Homo sapiens: one gene and its partners. The protein of the gene in region 1 interacts with the protein of each later gene in a pairwise test. Each region holds a gene or a part of one and is shown in the gene's direction. Other genes may lie near its edges.

Region 1 (7,771 bases):
ACAGGGGGTCCTCCATGTTGTCTAATATGAACTCTTTTGGAAGATACTGATTTTGAAACAGAGCAGATTCTGTGATTAAGTCAAGGAAGCCCTGGGTTAAGGACTACCATATATGATGATTAACTGTAAGATATGCCCTTATGTAACAAATTAGTTAATATATTTATGGTAGCTTCTAACAAGGTAATAATTTTTTGGCTATTAGTATATTTATTTTCTTCCATGCATAAACAAAGAATCTAATACCACATATCGGCAGCTCTCAAAATGTAGTCCACAAACCTTAAAGGTAGAGGTATGGGGAGGGGTTCCTGAGACACTTTCAAGGAATCTGTGAGGTTAAAAATCTTTCATAACAATACTAAGACATTATTTATCCTTTTTACTTTATGAACATTTGCACTGATGGCGAAAAGGAATGGTGGATAATACTGTTGGTACTTCAGCACAAATTGAGGCAATGACACCAAACTATACTAGTAGCTATATTTTTCATTGCCATGCACTCAGGCTAAAAATAATGTCAATTTCATTTTAGAATATCCTTAATGAAATGGTAAAAAGTATGAATTTTTATTAAATCTCTACCTTTGAGTTATATGTGACCAAGTACACACAAAGCATTTCTGCTGTGTACCTGAGTATAAGGGTTGTCCTGAGGATTTGGTTGCCCAAATCAAAAGCACTTTTGCAATTGGTTGAACTGTGAGCTGAAATAGATTTTTTTCATGGAAAACCATTTTTTTTTTTTTTTTTTTGAGACGGAGTCTCGCTCTGTCGCCCAGGCTGGAGTGCAGTGGCACAATCTCGGCGCACTGCAAACTCCACCTTCCGGGTTCACGCCATTCTCCTGCCTCAGCCTCCCGAGTAGTTGGGACTACAGGCGCCCGCCACCACGCCCGGCTAATTTTTTGTATTTTCAGTAGAGACAGGGTTTCACCGTGTTAGCCAGGATGGTCTCGATCTCCTGACTTCGTGATCCACCTGCCATGGCCTCCCAAAGTGCTGGGATTACAGGCGTGAGCCACCGTGCCCAGCCCATGGAACACCATTTTTACCAGAAAAAAACTACTGACAGACAAACCAGGGTTATTCAGACTTAAGTATGTGGCAGAAATTCTGTCAAAAATGTAACAAAGTGAGATTGTCACTTCAAGTAAAACAACTGACAGTTTGTGTTACCAATGATAAAATTCTAGCTTTCAAGTGAAAACTAGAATTTTGGAAAATCCTATCTGCCACTGTGAGCTTGACAGCTTCCCAATACTTGAAGACTTTTCCGACTAAATAGGAAGACATTAAGGAAAGTGATTGTTTGATACTGTATAATGAAATATGTCAACATTAGGAAGAACTGTATAACACAGTGAACCACTAAAATTTCCGAAGGACTTATGCTTAATGTTTTAAAAAACAGGCATGGATTCAACATCCATTCAAAGTGTAAGGTACACCATTGGATATTAATGTAACAGTGTAAAACAAGTACATTGATATAGTTTCAAATTCCACTTTGTAACTAACCTTTAAAAAGCTACGATTTGTCAAACTTTGATGTGATATCAAAGAACATCCATGATTATCTTTAAAAAGCTATTAAAATATTCTTCTTTCCAACTTCATATGACTGTGAGGTGGGATTTTCTTCATCTTAAACCAAAATGAAACAGTGCAGCAGCTTAAATGCAGAGGCAGACATAAGAATCCAGTTACCTTCTATTATGTCACACATTAGTTTTGCAAAAATGCGAAACAGTGCCACTTCTGCCGGGCGCAGTGGCTCACGCCTGTAATCCCAGCACTTTGGGAGGCCGAGACAGGCGGATCACGAGGTCAGGAGATCGAGACCATCCTGGCTAACAGGATGAAACCCCGTCTCTACTAAAAATAAAAAAAAAAAATTAGCCGGGCGTGGTTGCGGGCGCCTGTAGTCCCAGCTACTTGGGAGGCTGAGGCAGGGGAATGGCGTGAACCCGGGAGGCGGCGCTTGCAGTGAGCCGAGATAGCGCCACTGCATTCCAGCCTGGGCGACAGAGAGAGACTCTGTCTCAAAAAAAAAAAAAAAGAAAAAAAAAAGAAACAATGCCACTCCTAGGATAACTGTTATCAAAACCAGGAAATAAGTGCTGATGATGATGTGGAGAAATTGGAATCCTTAGGTACTGCCAATGGGAATGTAAAAATGGTACAGCCACTGAAGAAAACAGTATGGTTTCAAAAACTAAACATAGTACTATCCTATGACTCAGCAATTTTCACTTCTAGGTACATACAGTATCCCAAAGAATTAAAAGCAGGGATTCAAACAGACATGTGCACATTAATGATCATAGTAGTAGTATTCACAATAGCCAAAAGGTGGAAGCAACCCAAATGTCCACTGACAAATGGATAAACAAAATGTGGTATATACATACAATGAAATATTATTCAGTTTTAAAAAGGAAATCCCGACACATGCTTCAAAACGAATAAACCTTAAAAACGCTATACTAAATAAACCAGACGCAAAAGGACAAATATTGTCTAATTCCACTTATATAAGGGACCTGAAATACTCAAATTCATAGAGAAAAAATAATGGTTAACCAGGGATTGGGGGAGGAAGTAATGGGCAGTTATTGTGTAATAGGTACAGGGTTTCAGTTTGGGATGATGACAAGTTCTGGAGATGGACAGTGGTGTTGGCTGTACCTCTCAATTGTACACTTAAAAATTATCAAAATGGTAAATTTTGTTATATCTTACCACAATTTTAAAAAAAAGGGAAAAAACCCCACAATGTTAATCTTCTCACTGATTGGGGGGCGGGGGGGTTGGTTTGGAAAATAGTTATTTTTCATTAAAATCACTATTTATGCACCTAGCCTATTTATTAGTTTTGTAAATTAACAACTACTTTAATTTTTTTCCAGCTTTAATGTCTAATATGGTAAATATAGACAGATATACCACACAAACAGAAGCTCTTAGGTCCACGGTAATTTTTGAAAGGTAAAGGGGTCCTGAGAATAAAAAGTTTGAGAATTGTTCTTTTTTTTTTTTTTTTTTTTTTGAGACGGAGTCTTGCTCTGTCGCCCAGGCTAGAGTACAGTGGTGCGATCTCGGCTCACTGCAAGCTTCGCCTCCCGGGTTCATGCCATTCTCCTGCCTCAGCCTCCCGAGTAGCTGGGACTACAGGCGCCCGCCACCACGCCCGGCTAATTTTTTGTATTTTTTAGTAGAGACGGGGTTTCACCGTGTTAGCCAGGATGGTCTCGATCTCCTGACCTCGTGATCCACCCGCCTCGGCCTCCCAAAGTGCTGGGATTACAGGCATGAGCCACAGCGCCCGGCCGAGAATTGCTCTTATATGAAGATTTATTCCCTCCTCTCACCCCTGCATTATGTGAAGTCTTCATTTCTTGGTATAACTTCATTTGACAGCTATATCGATTGCAGCCTGGAGACTAGCAAAAAACGACAGGCTGAAATATGGTCACCAATCACCACATTAACTCTTTGTAATTAACCACTGTCGCCTGCCTGCTCCCTAACTCTACGGACTGAGCAACACAAAGCTCCATCCACACAGACGAGTGGCAATGTGCAAAAGGGAACTGTAGAAAGCTTAAATGCTGACATGTTACAAAGTAGTTTTGTTGATAGCTAGCAAGAAGCACACATTTTCTTTATTCTGTTGAATCTTCATTTGGATTTACAGTTCTGGGCAGATTTGGAAACGGGGATGGTGGCGGCATTGTTTCCGAAAACCAGCGCATCCGTGCAAAGAATTTAATTCCCTCACCATCTTGCTACTGGTCTGTTGCAGTGGGGTGTGGTTAGAGGGCTAGGAAGCAATCCAAAACAGCAGCTCAGGCTGCCCAAAGCCGTGTCCAAGCGATCATTTTCTCCATTTTGGGCCAAGTCAATTTGCACCGGCAAGAGGCAGAATGTTTGTTTTATGGGGAGGAGGAAAATAAAAAAGGAAGTCAGAGAGCATGGACGGAAACAAGCAACACCACCAAAGAGGTTTCATCTCGGGTGGATGTTAAACGATTGGAATGCTAATAATGGGCGCGAGGAGCAAACACAATTGTTCTGAGTCCACAGCTGCGGCACTTTTAATGACAGGTCTGTAGTTCTGCATTGGGATTGAACGTGAAATGATTTTCTTATCCAAACTATTTGCATTCATTTTGGGCCGCGTCTGTGACCAGCCTCGCTGACTGCGGCTGAGGCAGTCCCAAACAAAGAGGAATGGACGTCCTCCCGAGGGAGCGGAGGCGGGAAAGGTGGCCCCAGGTGGCCGCGCCAGGTGTCCCCCAGGGGTCCACCTTGCAAGCCGCGGGGAGGGTGCGTCCCGGGAGCGTCGGAGAGGCGCGGTCGGGAAGGGGTGGGTCCGGGCTCCAGGCACCACACGGCGAAAGACCCCGCCCTGCCCACGGCCAAGGTTAACCCGCGCGCTGGAGGTACCTGCGGAGGCTTCGCACAGCCAAAAGGCACCGGGCGATCATGGGAGCGCTGAGAGGCTGGCGGCGGCGGGCGCGTGGTCCTTCGGCGTGGGGCGGCGAGGCGGGCGGCAGCGCCTGGGCGCCCGGGAGTCTCGAGCCGGCCTAGCCGCAGAGGCCACAGTGGCTGCCTGGCCAGCGCCCTCCCACGTGCGGCAGCTCCACGCCGGCGCCTACCAGCCCCGCCCCGCGCCGTGCCCCGCCCCAGCTCGCGTGTCTGGCCCCGCCCCAGCCCTCGCGTCCGGCCCCGCCCCAGGGGCGGTGCTGGCCAGACCCTGCCGCCTGAGAGAGAGCACAGCCTGGTGGGTTCTGGGGTCTACGGCCTAGGGGCCGGGGAAGTTTGCGCCGCCGCGACCAGTGCTGCGATCCCGAGCCGGGCTCCAGCCCCGAGGACCAGGGGTCGGGCGGGCCTGCCTACGGAACCCCGCGGGCCAGCAGCAGTCGTCTCGCGTCCTCCTGCTTGGTAAGGGGCTTCTGTCTGGCAAGGGTGCGCCTCCCGCCGCTCCGGACCGGGGCCCGCACCGGCACCCGCTGCACACCGGGCAGGGCCGAGGCGAGGCCGGGTACCTGAGGGAGGACGGAAGGGAGGGGGAGCTCGATGCGCTCTGGGGAGAGGAAGGGGGAGAAGCCTATTTCCCTCTTCTCACCCCTTTTCCCCCCATTCTGTTTTTACCTTCTGCCCTGGGGCCTTATTTAGTGCTTATGACCCCGTGGCCTAGAGGCTGACATCGCCTTTAAAATAACTACACAAATAATAAACATTATAGCGGCGGGTACCACACCCTGGCTTTGAATTAGGGAACCTGGGGAGCAGATGGATGATGCGATTTGGTGGAAATCAGCCATGAATGCCGCCTGGCCCTGCGCCACTGTTTGGATGCGATAGTATTCCATGTGAATGAACATGACCGGGAGCTTCCAGCTTGTCCACGAGAGCACAGCCTCTGCAGGGAGCGCCGGTCGGCTTGTAGTATCCATCGACTTGGGCAGCGATTTCCTGACATGTCTGCTGATTAAATAGAAATGCCATTTTTATTAAGAACGACACTCACCACTTGAATAACCTTTCGCGAATGTGTTTCCTCATCAAATAACTCTCAACCTACAAAAGTGGGTAGAGTGTACATTATTAATACTTTTTTTAGATCCCATGAAAAAGAGGAAGATGCTTGGTATACATCAGCTTTTAGTCAGCAGTATGAAATGCCTCTTAACTTAGTACTGAGGCCTTTAGGGGATTTCTGTATGGTGAGATATGCAGTGACAGTCTAAGCTTATGCTGTACATGTTTTGAAGACATTTTTACTTATTCCAAGATTTAACATACTCGTATACCACTGGGTATTAATGAAAATATGTAATAAATTACCTTCACAATACTTTGTGCTCTCCTGACTCTTTACAAAGAGAAAAGATGAAAGGTCATACAGTTTTGTGTTTTGTTTTTACCTTTAATACACTTTATAACCCATATCATCTTTGTAATTTATGACTTTCCTGACTGATTCTTTAAAATAACTTAGTTCAGTGTTTTCATTTTTCTTATCAAGGAAAAGTGTTTAAGCTTCTAAAATGTCATCTATCAAGCACCTGGTTTATGCAGTTATTCGTTTCTTACGGGAACAAAGTCAGATGGACACTTACACCTCGGATGAACAAGAAAGTTTGGAAGGTATGCATCTGCTCTTTGTGTTCATTTATATTATAATTATAAACGAAGACTAAAATAGCTGTAAGCCCAACTTGATGATCTATTGTAACATAATCAGAATTTTTTTTGATCTTTCAAGAGGAGAGGCCTGACTATAAGGTTATCGTATTTCCATTTTCTGAAGCTTGTTTTGTTTGTTTTAACAACAAATTAAGAGGACTATTGTTCATTTATTGAACAAATACTATATGTCAGAAGTATGCTGTTCATATTATAGGCAATTTTTTCTTCACAGCAACTGTTATGTTAGTATTATCCCCATTTAACAAGTGAGAAAATAAAACCAGGGCCAGGCTTGGTGGCTCATGCCTGTAATCCCAGCACTTTGGGAGGCCGAGGCAGGTAGGTCATTTGAGGTCAGGAGTTCAAGACCAGGCTGGGCAACATGGCAAAACCCTGTCTCTACTAAAAATACAAAAAGTAGCCAGGTGTGGTGGCACTTGCCTGTAGTCCCAGCTACTCAGGAGGCTGAGATAGGAGGGTGGCTTAAACCCAGGAGGTGGAGGTTGCAGTGAGCTGAGATCACACCACTGCACTCCAGCCTGGGCCATGAGCGAGACCCTATCTCAAAAAAAAAAAAAAAAAAAGAAAAAGAAAATGAAACCAAATAGCGTAAGCAGATAACACAGCTGATATGTGATAAAGCTGAGATTTAAATCCTGGTTAATACTCTGAAGATCTTGTTGTCTCCATTTCCTAATAGGAAAGCATCCAGTTTAGAAATAATATATAAAAATACCTGAGTCATTTTAATAGCACTATGTAAAAGTCTAATAATTATACCACTAGTGAGATCTGACCAGTGCCTAATTTGGAACTTGAAATGGGAGCATTTCACCTGTGTTTTACGTTAACTTTAATATTGGATTCGGTAATCTGTAAAGTTGAACAGGATGTGGGTGATAGCATCATGTGTTTCCTCGACACCGTCTTTGTTCTTCATGTTTATGTGTTATAAAATTTAAATTCAGTACAACCATAACAAGGTAGAATTCTGCAGATGGGCTTGTGGAGGTTCAGTGAATCTGGTGTCCCTGTGGCCTAAAGTCTTTTATTTATTTATTTATTTTTTGAGACAGGGTCTGTCTGGCTCTGTCACCCAGGCTGGAGTGTAGTGGCACAATCTCGGCTCACTGCAACCTCCACCTCCTGGGCTCAATTGATCCTCCCACCTCGGCCTCCTGAGTAGCTGGGACTACAGGAGTACACTACCACACCCGGCTAAGTTTTGTATTTTTTTTTGTAGAGACAGAGTTTCGCCATGTTGCCCAGGCTGTTCTCAAACTCCTGGGCTCAAGTGATCCACTCGCCTTGGCCTCCCAAAGTACTGAGATTACAGGCATGAGCCACCCCTCCCAGCCCCAAAGTCTTAATTATTGCAGTGAGAGTGCATTTGGAAGAACTTAATAAATGACAGTATAGTTATAAATCCCATCTTGAAACTGCTTCTATAATTTCAACAAGCATTTCCCTGTGAATATGCTTTTAGGAGGTGGAGATGAAAATTGGGCATTTGCTCTAAACCTCCTTGCAGTCTGGTTAGTTGATGTCTTTCCAGGTGGCAGTGAGA
Region 2 (7,434 bases), on another chromosome or scaffold:
GTACCCGGCAGGCAGAAGATGGCCACTGGGGGTGTCACCAGGCGGCGGTCTGGACACAGGATCGACAGGCCTAGGCCATGTGGAAAGCTGTCTTGATGGATATGGAGGAAGAAGATTACAGAGAGGACACAGACTAGCAGGAAGGCCAGGCAGAGCTGACGATGGCTCCGGAGCCACATGGCTGCAGGGGAGGAAAGGCGAATTAGCAAATGCTCTGAGGCTGAGGAGGGGAGGCTGAGGAGGGATGTGGGGTAAGGGAGGCGCCTGGGGTGCAGCACTCCTTAGTCCCAGGGAAAGAGGAAGTTAAAGGTTTAGACTCCTGGGGCTGAGGTAGGGAGAGCCTGAGTCCTAGGTTTCAGGGATGAGAGCCTTGGAATTTCGGGGCATGGGGACTGGAAGACAAGTGGTTTTCAAGATAGCCATGGTTTGGCTGGGCACTGTGGCTCACACCTGTAATCCCAGCATATTGGGAGGCTGAGATGGGAGGATCCCTTGAGCCCAGGAGTTCAAGATCAGCCTGGGCAACAGAGCACTCTTACAAAAAAATTTTAAAATTAGCTTGGCATGGGCCAGGCGCGGTGGCTCACACCTGTAACCCCAGCACTTTGGGAGGCCAAGGTGGGTGGATCACCTGAGGTTGGGAGTTCGAGACCAGCCTGACCAACGTGGAGAAACCCTGTCTCTACTTAAAATACAAAATTAGCCGGGCATGGTGGCGCATGCCTGTAATCCCAGCCACTCGGGAGGCTGAGGCAGGAGAATCGCCTGAACCCGGGGGGCGGGAGTTGCGGTGAGCTGAGATCATGCCATTACACTCCAGCCTGGGCAACAAGAGTGAAACTCCGTCTCCAAAAAAAAATAAATAAAATTAGCTTGGCATGGTGGCACATGTCTGTGGTCTCAGCTACACCGGATGCTAAGGCGGGAGGATCCCCGGAGCTCACAATGAGCCGCGATAGCACCGCTGACTGCACTCCAGCTTGCGCGACAGAGAGGGACCCTGTCTTAAAAAAAAAAAAAAAAAAAAAAAAAGAAAGTGGTCCAGGTTCCTACACCTTTCCTGAAGGAATCTCGAGTCTCCCCTCCTGTAAGTTCCGCTGATACTGGACTCTTCCACCAGCCTGTTTCTCAGGAGTACCTGTCTGTGAGGCGCAAAATCCACCACAGAGGTGGTGATGGGAAACGATAGTTCAAGTAAAACAAGAGAGGCTGGAGGGTCAGGAGCGGAAGGAGCATCTTGGTTCCTGGAGGAGTAATGGCTGGGGAGGTGGCGGAGATTCCTAGGGCCTTAGGAAGACCTGGAGAAGAGGTTGGGGGTGCACCTCCTGGTTCTGAAGGAGTTGTTCCTGGGTCCCAGGAACAACTGAGTGGGGCAGTCCCCACTTACCCGAGCTGCTTGCAGGTGGCAGATCCACAGTCCGCTTTTCGTGGCCGGAGCGCACCCTCCGCAAAGGCAGGCCACATCCGGCCGCCCCTGGAACGCCAGGCGTCCGGCTATCCGGCCCGGCAGCCCTCCCCTCCGCGCAGCCTGTCCGGACTGGCAGCGAGGGCTTGGGGAGGAGAGGAAGGAGAGGGCGCGGCCGGGAGTCTCGCAGCGTCCGCCCTCCCGGGCCGGGCGGATGGCTGGAAGGTGGAGCCCCGCCCGTCACTTGGCGCCGAGCCCCAGCGCCAGGGGCTAAGGCGATGGCCCCTGGGCCCACCGCTCCCCAGATCGGGGATGCAGGGGACCGCGCCCTGCCCCTCCGCCCCGTCATTGACCTGCGCGAAGGCTTCACCCAGGGCAGGCTACCTGGCTTCTGAGCAGCCGCAGCATCATTGCGTGGACCAGGAGACGGAGCGCCCAGTTGCAATGCTGGAGCCGGGAGGTCCAATCCGCCGCCCTCTCTCTTCCGGTGCCAGGGCTTAGAGTCGGCCCCCGACACCTGGGTGCTTCGAGCCTGGCCACGCCCCAGCGGCTGGGCAGGGCCCCCGCACCTGGTCCCGGCGAGTGGAGCGATCGTCCGCCCTCTGCCGCGTCCTCCTGGGGGATGGAGAACCTGTTTGCCAGGCTGCCGCCGGAGCGCGCGAGGGCCTCCAGCCTGCAGGTGCTCCCGCGCCCACCAGGGTCTCCGATCTCCCACACCCCCCGCCTCACCGTCCACACTCAAATTCCAGAATCCCAGCCCCTAGTCACTCCTTTTGGGGAATTCTAGGGTCCCGTGCCAAACTGCTACTTTCCAGACCTGCACTGCACGAAGGCAACCATTCCAAGGCTGGAGACCGGAGTGGAACAGGGTCTGTTTCCCACGCCGTCAGCGGGGGCCGTGGCTGCCGGCGCCAGAGACAAAGGCCTCTGCCCGCTTGTCACCTAATTAAAGCATTTTCTCTGGTCCAAGGCCCACCTCCAGCATCGCCAACCCCGAGCAGGGCAGGCTAACGTAGGGTCCAGCCCTACGGGGCTTTGCGGGTGGGTGTTCTTCCCCTGTGAGGAGAGGAGAGATTGTAAGAAATAAAGACACAAGACAAAGAGATAAAGAGAAAACAGCTGGGCCCGGGGGACCACTACCATCAAGACGCAGAGACCGGTAGTGGCCCCGAATGGCTGGGCGCGCTGATATTTATTGTATACAAGACAAGGGGGGGCAGGATAAGGAGGGTGAGTCGTCCAAATGACTGATAAGGTCAAGCAAGTCACGTGATCATGGGACAGGGGGCCCTTCCCTTTTAGGCAGCCGAAGCAGAAAGAGAAGGCAGCATATGTCAGCGTTTTCTTCTCTGCACTTATAAGAAAGATCAAAGACTTTAAGACTTTCACTATTTCGGGCGGGCGCGGTGGCTCACGCCTGTAATCCCAGCACTTTGGGAGGCTGAGGCGGGCGGATCACAAGGTCAGGAGGTGGAGGCCATCCTGGCTAACACGGTGAAACCCTGTCTCTACTAAAAATACAAAAAATTATCCGGGCGCGTGGTGGAGGGCGCCTGTAGTCCTAGCTATTTGGGAGGGTGAGGCAGGAGAATGGTGTGAACCCAGGAGGCGGAGATTGCAGTGAGCCGAGATCACGCCACTGCACTCCAGCCTGGGGGACAGAGCGAGACTCCGCCTCAAAAAAAAAAAAAAAAAGGCTTTCACTATTTCTTCTACCGCTATCTACTACGAACTTCAAAGAGGAACCAGGAGTACGGGAGGAAAATGCAAGAGGACAAGGAGCGTGACCATTGAAGCACAGCACAGCAGGATGACTGCGGGCAGGCCTAGATAATACCCAGCCTCCCACAAGAAGCTGGTGGAGCAGAGTGTTCCCTGACTCCTCCAAGAAAAGGAGATTCCCTTTCGTGGTCTGCTGAGTAACGGGTGCCTTCCCAGACACTGGCGTTCCCGCTTGACCAAGGAGCCCTCAAGAGGCCCTTATGCCGGTGTGACAGAAGGCTCACCTCTTGCCTTCTAGGTCACTTCTCACAATGTCCCTTCAGTACCTGACCCTATACCCACCGGTTGTTTCCTGGTTATATTAGTTATACAACAAAGAATAAAAGTAATAGCTAATGATTAATAATGTTTACACTAATGATTGATACTGTCCATGATCATCTCTATATCTAATTTGTATGATAACTATTCTTATTCTAACTATTTTCTTTATTATACTGAAACAGTTTGTGCCTTCAGTCTCTTGCCTCGGCACCTGGGTAATCCTTCCCCACAGACTGACCCTCCCATTCAAGATACATCAATGTCAAAGACTCAGGAGTTTGACTTGATTCCCAGAAGTTTAACCATCATCTCCCCAGGCTCGGGACTCCCAGCACCCAGACCCTTCTGCTCACACCCAGCAGTCCAGGCCCCCAGACCCTCCTCCCTCAGACTTAGGAGTCCAGGCTCCCGGCCCCTCCTTCCTCAGACCCAGGAGTCCAAGCCCCCTGCCCCTCCTTCCTCAGACCCAGGAGTCCAGGACCCCAGCCCCTCCTTCCTCACACCCACGAGTCCAGATCCCTAGCCCCTACTCCCTCAGACCCAGGAGTCCAGACCAAAGCTCCCTCCTCCCTCAGACCCAGGAGCCCAAGTTCCCCAGCCCCTCCTCCCTCAGATCCAGGAGTACAGGCCCAGACCCTCCTCCCTCAGACCCAGGAGTCCAGGCCCCCCACCCCTCCTCCCTCAGACCCAGGAGTCCAGAGCCCCAGCCCTCCTCCCTCAGACACAGAAGGCCTACCCTTGCACCCTTAGGGGCTCCAGGAAATTAGCCAACCTGTCTTCCCTCTGGGTGCCCACTCCAGGGCCTGGCTTGGCTGCCAACTCCAGTCAGGGACTTTCAGCCACCCCTCCCCCCAGGTTATTTCAGGAGCACCTGCCTGGGCCTGGGATGGCTTCTCTGGTGAAAGAAACACCAGGATTGCATCAGGGAGGAGGAGGCTGGGATGTCCAGGGTCTGAGCATCTGAGCAGGGACAGATGAGGTTGAGGTTGGCCCACGGCCAGGTGAGAGGCTTCCAAGGCAGGATACTTGTGTCTCAGATGCGGTCGCTTCTTTCATACAGCAATTGCCGCCTTGCTGAGGATCAAGGAACCTCAGTGTCAGATCACGCCCTCCCCCCAAACTTAGAAATTCAGATGGGGCGCAGAAATTTCTCTTGTTCTGCGTGATCTGCATAGATGGTCCAAGAGGTGGTTTTTCCAGGAGCCCAGCACCCCTCCTCCCTCCGACTCAGGTGCTTGAGACCCCAGATCCTTCTCTCTGAGACTCAGGAATGTGGGCCCCCAGCCCCTTTCACCTGGGTCCCAGCTAACCCGATCCTCCCCTCCCTCATCCCCTAGACCCAGGAGTCTGGCCCTCCATTGAAAGGACCCCAGGTTACATCATCCATTCAGGCTGCCCTTGCCACGATGGAATTCTGTAGCTCCTGCCAAATGGGTCAAATATCATGGTTCAGGCGCAGGGAGGGTGATTGGGCGGGCCTGTCTGGGTATAAATTCTGGAGCTTCTGCATCTATCCCAAAAAACAAGGGTGTTCTGTCAGCTGAGGATCCAGCCGAAAGAGGAGCCAGGCACTCAGGCCACCTGAGTCTACTCACCTGGACAACTGGAATCTGGCACCAATTCTAAACCACTCAGCTTCTCCGAGCTCACACCCCGGAGATCACCTGAGGACCCGAGCCATTGATGGACTCGGACGAGACCGGGTTCGAGCACTCAGGACTGTGGGTTTCTGTGCTGGCTGGTCTTCTGCTGGGAGCCTGCCAGGCACACCCCATCCCTGACTCCAGTCCTCTCCTGCAATTCGGGGGCCAAGTCCGGCAGCGGTACCTCTACACAGATGATGCCCAGCAGACAGAAGCCCACCTGGAGATCAGGGAGGATGGGACGGTGGGGGGCGCTGCTGACCAGAGCCCCGAAAGTGAGTGTGGGCCAGAGCCTGGGTCTGAGGGAGGAGGGGCTGTGGGTCTGGATTCCTGGGTCTGAGGGAGGAGGGGCTGGGGGCCTTGGCCCCTGGGTCTGAGGGAGGAGGGGCTGGGGATCTGGACTCCTGGGTCTGAGGGAGGAGGGGCTGGGGATCTGGGCCCCTGGGTCTGAGGGAGGAGGGGCTGGGTCTGGACCCCTGGGTCTGAGGGAGGAGGGGCTGGGGGTCTGGACTCTTGGGTTTGAAGGAGGAAGGGCTGGGGTCCTGGACTCTTGGGTCTGAGTTGGGAGGGGGCTTTGGCTTGGGCTTCTCCTGGGTCTGAGGGAGGAGGTAGGCTGTGGGCTTGGACTCCCAGGGCTGGGACAGAGCCGGATGGTGGGACAGAGTCGGGTGGTGGGACAGTCCCGGGTGGGAGAGGTCCTCGAACCACCTTATCGCTTTCACCCCTTAGGTCTCCTGCAGCTGAAAGCCTTGAAGCCGGGAGTTATTCAAATCTTGGGAGTCAAGACATCCAGGTTCCTGTGCCAGCGGCCAGATGGGGCCCTGTATGGATCGGTGAGTTTCCAGGACCCTCCTCACCACCCACCATGCTCCTCCTATATGTCGCCCTCACAGCCTGGGGTGCCTTGTCTTGCTCATCCCCCCCGGAGCCAGACTTGATTCTATTTGCTCTGCACGCCCCCAGCTGCAACATTTGGAGGTTGAAGTTGTCATCAGTGTTTGCAAGATGAGGAAACTGAGGCCCAGGCCGGGGCGCCAGTGACCTCAATCATGTGATGTGTGGATGCTGGAGCGGCCTGAGGCTCAGGTTATTGGGAGTCTCGTGATTCAGTAACCCCTGCTCCTGCCCACACGGCCCCTGTGTGCACGGCTCATGCTGGGCACAGGGACACTCGGGGAAGCCATGGCCAGTAAAGTGACCAGGACCTTGAGTGCTAGGGAGACACCCCGCCTGGCCTGAGAGAGCACTGATGGCTCCGAGGGCTGGAATGTTCTCTGTGAAGTCTGAACTGGGAGGCAGGTCCCTGCAGGAGAGCCCTGGGGTAAAAAACAAAACCTGCCTTGCTGTTTTGTTTCCTAGAGGAGGGGCTGGGGGCCTGGACTCCTGGGTCTGAGGGAGGAGGGGCTGGGGGCCTGGACCCCTGGGTCTGAGGGAGGAGGGGCTGGGGCCTGGAACCCCGGGTCTGAGGGAGGAGAGGCTGGGGCCTGGAACCCCGGGTCTGAGGGAGGAGAGGCTGGGGCCTGGAACCCCGGGTCTGAGGGAGGAGGCGCTGGGGGCCTGGACTCCTGGGTCGGATGGAGGAGAAACTAGGGTCTGGACCCCTGGGTCTGAGGGAGGAGGCGCTGGGGGCCTGGACCCCTGGGTCTGAGGGAGGCAGGGCTGGGGCCTGGATCCTGGGTCTTACATCAGGAAAACAGAGGAACCCTGTCTCTGATCCTGTTTTTGTCCCCTAGCTCCACTTTGACCCTGAGGCCTGCAGCTTCCGGGAGCTGCTTCTTGAGGACGGATACAATGTTTACCAGTCCGAAGCCCACGGCCTCCCGCTGCACCTGCCAGGGAACAAGTCCCCACACCGGGACCCTGCACCCCGAGGACCAGCTCGCTTCCTGCCACTACCAGGCCTGCCCCCCGCACTCCCGGAGCCACCCGGAATCCTGGCCCCCCAGCCCCCCGATGTGGGCTCCTCGGACCCTCTGAGCATGGTGGGACCTTCCCAGGGCCGAAGCCCCAGCTACGCTTCCTGAAGCCAGAGGCTGTTTACTATGACATCTCCTCTTTATTTATTAGGTTATTTATCTTATTTATTTTTTTATTTTTCTTACTTGAGATAATAAAGAGTTCCAGAGGAGGATAAGAATGAGCATGTGTGAGTGTCTGAGGGAAGACATGGCAGCTGTTTTGTCTCCCTTGGCCCGGACAATCCCCTCTACACCTCCCCTCACGTGGTCCGAGGGTCCTGGCTTCCCACTGGGCCTCACTTTTTTCTTTTCTTTTCTTTTTTTTTTTTTGAGACGGAGTCTCGCTCTGTCACCCAGGCTGGAGTGCAGTGGCGCGATCTTG
Region 3 (7,764 bases), on another chromosome or scaffold:
TTTTTTTTTTTGTAGAGATGGGGTCTTTGTATGTTGCCCAGGTTGGTTTTGAACTCCTGGCCTCAAGCAATCCTCTTGCCTTGGCCTCCTAAAGTGCTGGGCTTACGGGTGTGAGCCATGCGCCTGGCTCCAAATACCCCTTTTTTGGGGCAGCTCTCATTCTGCTGAGCCTGCAGGAGACTGGCTGCCCTCACCTGGAAGCCATGTGCTAGACAGAATTCTTGCGTGCAGGTGACAGAAGCCCATTGTAAAACTGTAAGCCCCCTAGAGGCCGGGTGCGGTGGCTCACACCTGTAATTCCAGCACTTTGGGAGGCCAAGGTGGGTGGATCACAAGGTCAGGAGATTGAGACCACCCTGGCTAACACAGTGAAATCCCGTCTCTACTAAAAATACAAAAAAAAATTAGCTGGGCGTGGTGGCAGGTGCCTGTAGTCCCAGCTACTCAGGAGGCCGAGGCAGGAGAATGGCGTGAACCCAGTAGGCGGAGGTTGCAGTGAGCCGAGATCGCACCACTGCACTCCAGCCTGGGTGACAGAGTGAGACTCTGTCTCGAAAACAAACAAACAAACAAACAAACAAACCGTAAGCCCCCTAAAGGGGCTGTCTTGGCTTTCTTCCTGAAAGTCCCAGGTGAGCTTCAGTCAGGTAAAGCTGGATCCAGGGCTCCCACACTGCCCTTCTCTTCTGAGCTTTACTTTCCTTTGTGTTAACATCATTCTTAAGGACGTGAGAACTCCAGATGATTACCTTTCCATTTAGCAACATTGGCACCTTGGACCCTGGGGCCGTGTTTCCAGGATAGCGTCTGACTAGATGAACATGCATCACGTGCCCTCTGCGGAATCCGTCACCGAGGCTGGGGTGGTTAACAGTCCTCTTGTTGGCCAAGCCTGGGATCCTATTTAAACCAAGTGGATTGAGAGAAGTAGGGGTACTGGTTTCCCAAAAGAAAATTACCAAAGAGGAGACAAAGCTAGGCTTGCAAAAATAGGGTGGCCCCTAGTGGCAGCCCCCTTCCCCCAGATTGCAGGTTCGGCTTCTTGGAGCAGGCACTTAACTGGGTATTTTAGGTCTCAGGCTGGAGTTATCTGTACCCCACACTCTCCTCCAGCCCAGGGCTTGAGTGTGTCTCTCCCTGTGCCTATCCTGAAGCCCTCTGTCTCCCAGGTGACACCGGGTCTAGGAGTGGTGGCCGTTCTGCTGCTGTTCCTGGTAGTGCGGGAGCCGCCAAGGGGAGCCGTGGAGCGCCACTCAGATTTGCCACCCCTGAACCCCACCTCGTGGTGGGCAGATCTGAGGGCTCTGGCAAGAAAGTGAGTTTATTCCCACCCTAGACCACCATCTGAGGCCCCCTGGCGTCTGGTTTGAGGTTTAAGTGGGGATGTTCCTGTTCCTGGCCACACCCCAAGGCCAGTAATTCGGTCGATACTGTCCCCTTGTGGCAGCTGCTTGAATTACAGGCCCAGATCCTGGGAGCCAGAACCACCTCTGCACGGTGTTGTGACCTTACTAAAATAAGCCAGGAAGGGAGAAGAGAGGTCCCCTCCTGCCTCGACACCTCCGTGGGGTCTTACTCTCTCCCTCCCAACTATCTGCAGTCCTAGTTTCGTCCTGTCTTCCCTGGGCTTCACTGCTGTGGCCTTTGTCACGGGCTCCCTGGCTCTGTGGGCTCCGGCATTCCTGCTGCGTTCCCGCGTGGTCCTTGGGGAGACCCCACCCTGCCTTCCCGGAGACTCCTGCTCTTCCTCTGACAGGTGCCCAGATGGGGCTATGCTGGGGGGCCTGCGGGTGGCAGGGCTGGAGTGAAGAGCATCTGTGGCTCAGACCCAGGCAGGGAGTTTGACTCCTGACTTCACAAGCTGCCTGCTCTCCTGGAATCTCCGTTTCCTGGTCTGGGAAATAAGTGATGGGATGATGTCTGCCACTCAGGGCTGTGCCAACCATGGGGTGCTGTGTCTGTAGGGACCTTGGTTGTGAGGGTGGCTAGGATGGACAGCGTAGGGGCCTTGGCAGGCACAGGGACAAACCCCCCATTCCCTTCCCTCACCCCTAGTCTCATCTTTGGACTCATCACCTGCCTGACCGGAGTCCTGGGTGTGGGCCTGGGTGTGGAGATCAGCCGCCGGCTCCGCCACTCCAACCCCCGGGCTGATCCCCTGGTCTGTGCCACTGGCCTCCTGGGCTCTGCACCCTTCCTCTTCCTGTCCCTTGCCTGCGCCCGTGGTAGCATCGTGGCCACTTATGTGAGTAGCCAGCAGGTGTCAAGGGGGATGGCGTGGGTCCAGGGTGGAGGAGCAGTCAGCGTAATGGCCACTCGAGGTGGAATGCCTGGTTTTGAATCACAGCTCTGGCTCTTCCCAGCTGTGTGACATTGGACAAGTGACTTAACCTCTCTGTGCTCAGTTTCATCATGTGTAAAATGGGGATATTAGTAGCACCTGTCTCACTGGGGTGTGATGAGGATTAAATTAGTTAATAGATGAGCTGGGAACATGGTCAACTTTCCATGTGTTAGCCCTTACTGTCATGAACCCCCGACCCTCTCTTCCCCCAGATTTTCATCTTCATTGGAGAGACCCTCCTGTCCATGAACTGGGCCATCGTGGCCGACATTCTGCTGGTGAGTTGCTGGGCAGCTCCAGGGTCAGCGCAGAGGCTGATGAGAGCAGAGTTGGGGTCAGGAGTGTTGCCTCTACCCCTCAAAGCCCAGCCTCAACCTACCTTCTGCAATAAATAACATCTGTAGCAGACCCCCGGCCTGCCCTGCGACCTCAACCCCAGGCACACCTCTGACCCCGGCCTAGGCGGATCCTTGGTGGTCTCCTGGCCCCCTGCCTCCTGCCCCCTGGAGCCCAGAGCATCCACTGAGCTCCACCAACTCCTCCACAGTACGTGGTGATCCCTACCCGACGCTCCACCGCCGAGGCCTTCCAGATCGTGCTGTCCCACCTGCTGGGTGATGCTGGGAGCCCCTACCTCATTGGCCTGGTGAGCATTATTTCTTGGCTGGCATGGGGTGGCTGGTGTCCTGAGCCTGGGCTGGATCAGAAGGCCTGGCCCTAGTGAAGTGTCTGTGTCCTGCGTGCTGGGCACTTCTCACCTTCCATTGTCAACTGGAGGAGAAAGATTTTGTCTTTGAATATTTCTACCAGTAAGGCCAGGGACCTCACCCTGGTGGTCCAAACTCCTCCTTTCTTTTCTCTTTTCTTTTCTTCCTGAGACAAGACCTCACTCTGTTGCCCAGGCTGCAGTGTAGTGGCACGATCATGGCTCACTGCAGCCTCGACCTCCTGGGCTCAAGCGATCCTCCCACCTCAGCCTCCTGAGTAGCTGGGATGATAGGCATGAGCCACTGCATCTAGCTCAAACCTCCTTCCCTTTCCTGGGCTCCACTTGTCTTTCTCCCTGGAGCTCAGGGGCGTGCCCTCCCTGGTTCATCCATGAGGCTGACTCCCCTGGCTTTCCTGTCTCCTCTCCCTGCAGATCTCTGACCGCCTGCGCCGGAACTGGCCCCCCTCCTTCTTGTCCGAGTTCCGGGCTCTGCAGTTCTCGCTCATGCTCTGCGCGTTTGTTGGGGCACTGGGCGGCGCAGCCTTCCTGGGCACCGCCATCTTCATTGAGGCCGACCGCCGGCGGGCACAGCTGCACGTGCAGGGTCAGTTAGGAGCTGTGCCCGGCCCAGCTTCTTGATCTGCCTGTCTGTCTGTCCATCTGTCTGCCCACTCCTGTGCACCTGGCAGCTCAGTCCACAGCCCTCCCCTTGTTTGGCCTCCAGTCTGTCTGCATCCACCCCTGGGGTGGCTCTGTGGCTGCCCCATCCATTTCCCGCTGCCTGTTTGCCCTTCTCTGGCTTTGTCTGTCTGTCCATCCAGCTCACCCTGGCTCTGACCCTCCCCCCTCAGGCCTGCTGCACGAAGCAGGGTCCACAGACGACCGGATTGTGGTGCCCCAGCGGGGCCGCTCCACCCGCGTGCCCGTGGCCAGTGTGCTCATCTGAGAGGCTGCCGCTCACCTACCTGCACATCTGCCACAGCTGGCCCTGGGCCCACCCCACGAAGGGCCTGGGCCTAACCCCTTGGCCTGGCCCAGCTTCCAGAGGGACCCTGGGCCGTGTGCCAGCTCCCAGACACTACCTGGGTAGCTCAGGGGAGGAGGTGGGGGTCCAGGAGGGGGATCCCTCTCCACAGGGGCAGCCCCAAGGGCTCGGTGCTATTTGTAACGGAATAAAATTTGTAGCCAGACCCCAGGTGCCTGCTCTCGTCTTTCTCTGGGTGGCCTCTGATCTTGCACCCCGTCTTCACCCCAGGGCTCCTGAAGACTGTGGGTCATTCCTCAGGGCTCTGGGTGAGTCTCTGCCCTTCTGGGCTGGGCGACTGAGATGGGGGACTGCTCTTCTCCGAGTGAGCTGGCTGAGTGTGACCGTGAGTCACGCCCCTGCTTCCCTGGAGCCTGTCCCTTGCCTCACAGGCCTGGCTGAGGTGGGGGTGGGCACTGCCCTTTGTACCCCAGAATTCCCACTGTCAGGGCCTCCCTGCTCGCTGCCTCCCCGGGTCCTGGATATGGAGGCCACGGCTGCCAGCTGGCAGGTGGCTGTCCCCGTCTTGGGGGGGGCCAGCAGACCCTTGGTGAGTGCCTGGGGTGGCTCCCGGGCCTCCTCCTGCCCCCTCCCCACTGGCGGGTGGGGTGGGAAGGGGGCGGGTGCAGCCGGCTGAGAGCTTGATGATTTCCTGCCCTCGCCCGGCGCTCACCACAGCTTCCTGCCGCAGGCGGGCGGGAGGGCGGGCACGGAGAGGCGGGCGCCGAGGAGGGGCAGGTAGGGCTGGGACGCAGGGGTAACTGGATCCCCCGACTTCAGCCCAGGCCCTGGTCTGACCACCCTGGGAGCAGGGACTTTCCACAGTCAGCTGGACGCACACTCAGCCCAGTAAAAGAGGGGACCCATCCCGGGAGCCCCGGGGAGGGCACAGCTGCCTCCTCCCGGGCTCCCCTGCCACCTGGTGCCTACCTGCCCCCTGCTCCCTGCCGGGTCCGGTCCTCACCCCATCTTCATCTGGCCTTGACTCTGCCCTTGAGGGGCCTAGGGGTGCAGCCAGCCTGCTCCGAGCTCCCCTGCAGATGGAGGAGGCCATCCTGGTCCCCTGCGTGCTGGGGCTCCTGCTGCTGCCCATCCTGGCCATGTTGATGGCACTGTGTGTGCACTGCCACAGACTGCCAGGTGAGTGGGAAACTGGTGGGGGTACCCAGGGCCCAGGGACACCGACGGGATCCTCATCCACTCCCAGCCCCTGTGTCTGTCCTGGCTCTGTCCCTGCCTCCGTCCTGATCCCAGCGCCTCTGAGAGTCCCTGGATCCCAGCACCTTCTGCCCTAAGCACCCCCTGTTCCTGCCTCACCAGCCCTCTCTTTCCCAGGCTCCTACGACAGCACATCCTCAGATAGGTGAGTCCGCCCCAGCCGCCCTGGGTCTCCCTCCACACCCCATGGCGGGGCAGGGCTGGGGCTTCCATCCTCCATCTTCCAGCCCCATCCCCAAGCTGTGTCTCCTTTACCAGTTTGTATCCAAGGGGCATCCAGTTCAAACGGCCTCGTGAGTACAAGGAGGGTCCCCTACCTTGGGTGCCAGGGAGAGGGTCCCCTGGTGTGGGAGTGAGCGTGAACCTTCAGACTTCCCCTGCCACCTTGGGGCTGCCCACATGGCCTTGACCTGAGCTGGGAGAGGGGAGATGGCTCCCCCAGGCCTGTCCAGGGTGTGGGGCTTTCAGGGGCTTAGTCTGTTCTTTGAGGCCTTGACGATGTCCGGAGTCCTTCTTTCAACTTGGTTCTGTGTCCTCAGACACGGTTGCCCCCTGGCCACCTGCCTACCCACCTGTCACCTCCTACCCACCCCTGAGCCAGCCAGACCTGCTCCCCATCCCGTGAGTAGCTGCTCAGCCCCTGCCCCTCCAAAGCTCAGCCCCTCCCCCTCCAAACTCCACTCTCTACCCCTTCACTTTTTTGGATTGGGGGCCCCTTTCCCTTTTGCAACTGCTGTTGCCCCCTGAGCCCCACCTCAGGCATGACCCCTGACCTTTGACTCCCAGAAGATCCCCGCAGCCCCTTGGGGGCTCCCACCGGACGCCATCTTCCCGGCGGGATTCTGATGGTGGTAAGTGTGGGGAAGGGTTCAGGCGGCGGGGGCTGGGAAGAAGATAGGCCTGGCCTGAGCTGACTTAGTCTCCCTCTCACCCTCTCTTTGAAGCCAACAGTGTGGCGAGCTACGAGAACGAGGGTGCGTCTGGGATCCGAGGTGCCCAGGCTGGGTGGGGAGTCTGGGGTCCGTCCTGGACTAGGCTGACCCCTGTGTCGTTACCCCCAGAACCAGCCTGTGAGGATGCGGATGAGGATGAGGACGACTATCACAACCCAGGCTACCTGTGAGTGGCCAGGTGGGAGGTGGGAGGTGAGGGCTGAGGCTGTGCGTCCCCCCTTGCTCACCGGCCCTTTTCACTTCCTTTCAGGGTGGTGCTTCCTGACAGCACCCCGGCCACTAGCACTGCTGCCCCATCAGCTCCTGCACTCAGCACCCCTGGCATCCGAGACAGTGCCTTCTCCAGTGAGTCAGGCATTTGTTTTTATTTTTAAATTTTTTTAGGGATAGGCTGGAGTGCAGTGGTGCCATTGTAGCTCGCTGCAGCCTTGAACTCCTGGGCTCCAGTGATCCTCCCAAGTAGGCTACTCGGCCTCAGCCTCCCAAGTAGCTGAGACCACAGGCGCATGCCACCACACCTAGCTTATTTAAAAAATTTTTTTTGTAGAGATGGTCTCACTATGTTGCCCAGGCTGGCCTTAAACTCCTGGGCTCAAGTGATCCTCCCACCTCGGGCTCCCAAAGTGCTTGGGATTATAGGCGTGAGCCACCATGCCCGGCCCTGTTCTTCTGATTTTCTCAGCTTTCTCTCTCTTCTTTCCTATCTCTGTGTCCTTTCCTTTATCATCTGGGAGATTTCCTTGTCTGTATTCTTCAACCCTTCCACTGCAATTTTATTTCTCCTATCCAGAAGCTCTTTCTCGTTCTCTGGCTGTTCTTTTTTTATAGCCTCCTGTTCTTGTTTCATGGATGAAACATCTCTAAGGATGTTAATTAGAGGCTGTCTTGTGTGTCTGTGTGTGTCAGTTTTCTTCTGCTTCCTGCACTGCCCTGTTTCCTTTGAGCTGGTTTTCTCCCTTCCTCATGGTCTCATCCTGCCTGGTCACATCCTCTGGGCTTTCCTCAATGTCCGGGATTCTTTAGTTTTCTGTTGCTTTGCTCTCTCTGTATATACTTGTCCTGGGCTATCACTTCTATACCCTGGCTTTGTTTGCCATCCAGATTCCCAGTTTGCTCTCTCCTGAGCTCCAGACTGTATCCAAGTACTTCTTTTCTTTCATTCATTCATTCATTCATTCATTCAGCATTTACTATGTGCCTCTGCTGGGCTAATGCTGTGGATATAACAGTTAAGGAGGCAGACTGTCCTGATAAAATAGCTGGCTGGGCATGGTGGCTCACTCCTGTAATCCTAGCACTTTGGGAGGCCGAGGCGGGAGGATTGCTTGAGCCCAGGAGTTCAAGACCAGCCTGAGCAACATGGCGAAACCTCATCTTTAAAAAAAAAAAAAAAATTAGCCAAGCGTGGTGGCACATGCCTGTAGTCCCAGCTGCTCAGGAGGCTGAAATGGGCGGATCATCTGAACCCCGCAGGCGGAAGTTGCAGTGAGACGAGATCATGCCACTGCACTCCAGC

What was found. The genes of interacting proteins can lie anywhere in the genome.
Region 2: the proteins of SGTB (region 1) and FGF21 interact in binary tests that used the Homo sapiens proteins (3 or more experiments, as listed by UniProt).
Region 3: the proteins of SGTB (region 1) and LAT interact in binary tests that used the Homo sapiens proteins (3 or more experiments, as listed by UniProt).

Annotation. Positions count from the first base shown.
Region 1 is NC_000005.10:65,719,099-65,726,869, reverse strand, and holds the start of SGTB (small glutamine-rich tetratricopeptide repeat-containing protein beta), read left to right. Parts: upstream 1-4,760; 5' UTR 4,761-4,953; intron 4,954-6,040; 5' UTR 6,041-6,062; coding exon 6,063-6,162; intron 6,163-7,771. Other genes in the region: NLN (neurolysin, mitochondrial), read right to left, coding at 4,456-4,496. UniProt on the Homo sapiens protein: Co-chaperone that binds directly to HSC70 and HSP70 and regulates their ATPase activity.
Region 2 is NC_000019.10:48,751,103-48,758,536, forward strand, and holds FGF21 (fibroblast growth factor 21 precursor), read left to right. Parts: upstream 1-4,421; 5' UTR 4,422-4,682; intron 4,683-4,788; 5' UTR 4,789-5,134; coding exon 5,135-5,369; intron 5,370-5,823; coding exon 5,824-5,927; intron 5,928-6,827; coding exon 6,828-7,118; 3' UTR 7,119-7,228; downstream 7,229-7,434. Other genes in the region: FUT1 (galactoside alpha-(1,2)-fucosyltransferase 1), read right to left, coding at 1-179. UniProt on the Homo sapiens protein: Stimulates glucose uptake in differentiated adipocytes via the induction of glucose transporter SLC2A1/GLUT1 expression (but not SLC2A4/GLUT4 expression). Activity requires the presence of KLB. Regulates systemic glucose homeostasis and insulin sensitivity.
Region 3 is NC_000016.10:28,980,301-28,988,064, forward strand, and holds the start of LAT (linker for activation of T-cells family member 1), read left to right. Parts: upstream 1-4,751; 5' UTR 4,752-5,075; coding exon of another isoform or gene 5,076-5,117; coding exon 5,118-5,217; intron 5,218-5,412; coding exon 5,413-5,440; intron 5,441-5,553; coding exon 5,554-5,588; intron 5,589-5,834; coding exon 5,835-5,916; intron 5,917-6,081; coding exon 6,082-6,146; intron 6,147-6,239; coding exon 6,240-6,269; coding exon of another isoform or gene 6,270-6,356; coding exon 6,357-6,414; intron 6,415-6,498; coding exon 6,499-6,593; intron 6,594-7,764. Other genes in the region: SPNS1 (protein spinster homolog 1), read left to right, coding at 1,170-1,315, 1,601-1,756, 2,056-2,245, 2,557-2,622, 2,892-2,990, 3,905-4,139, 4,309-4,379. UniProt on the Homo sapiens protein: Required for TCR (T-cell antigen receptor)- and pre-TCR-mediated signaling, both in mature T-cells and during their development.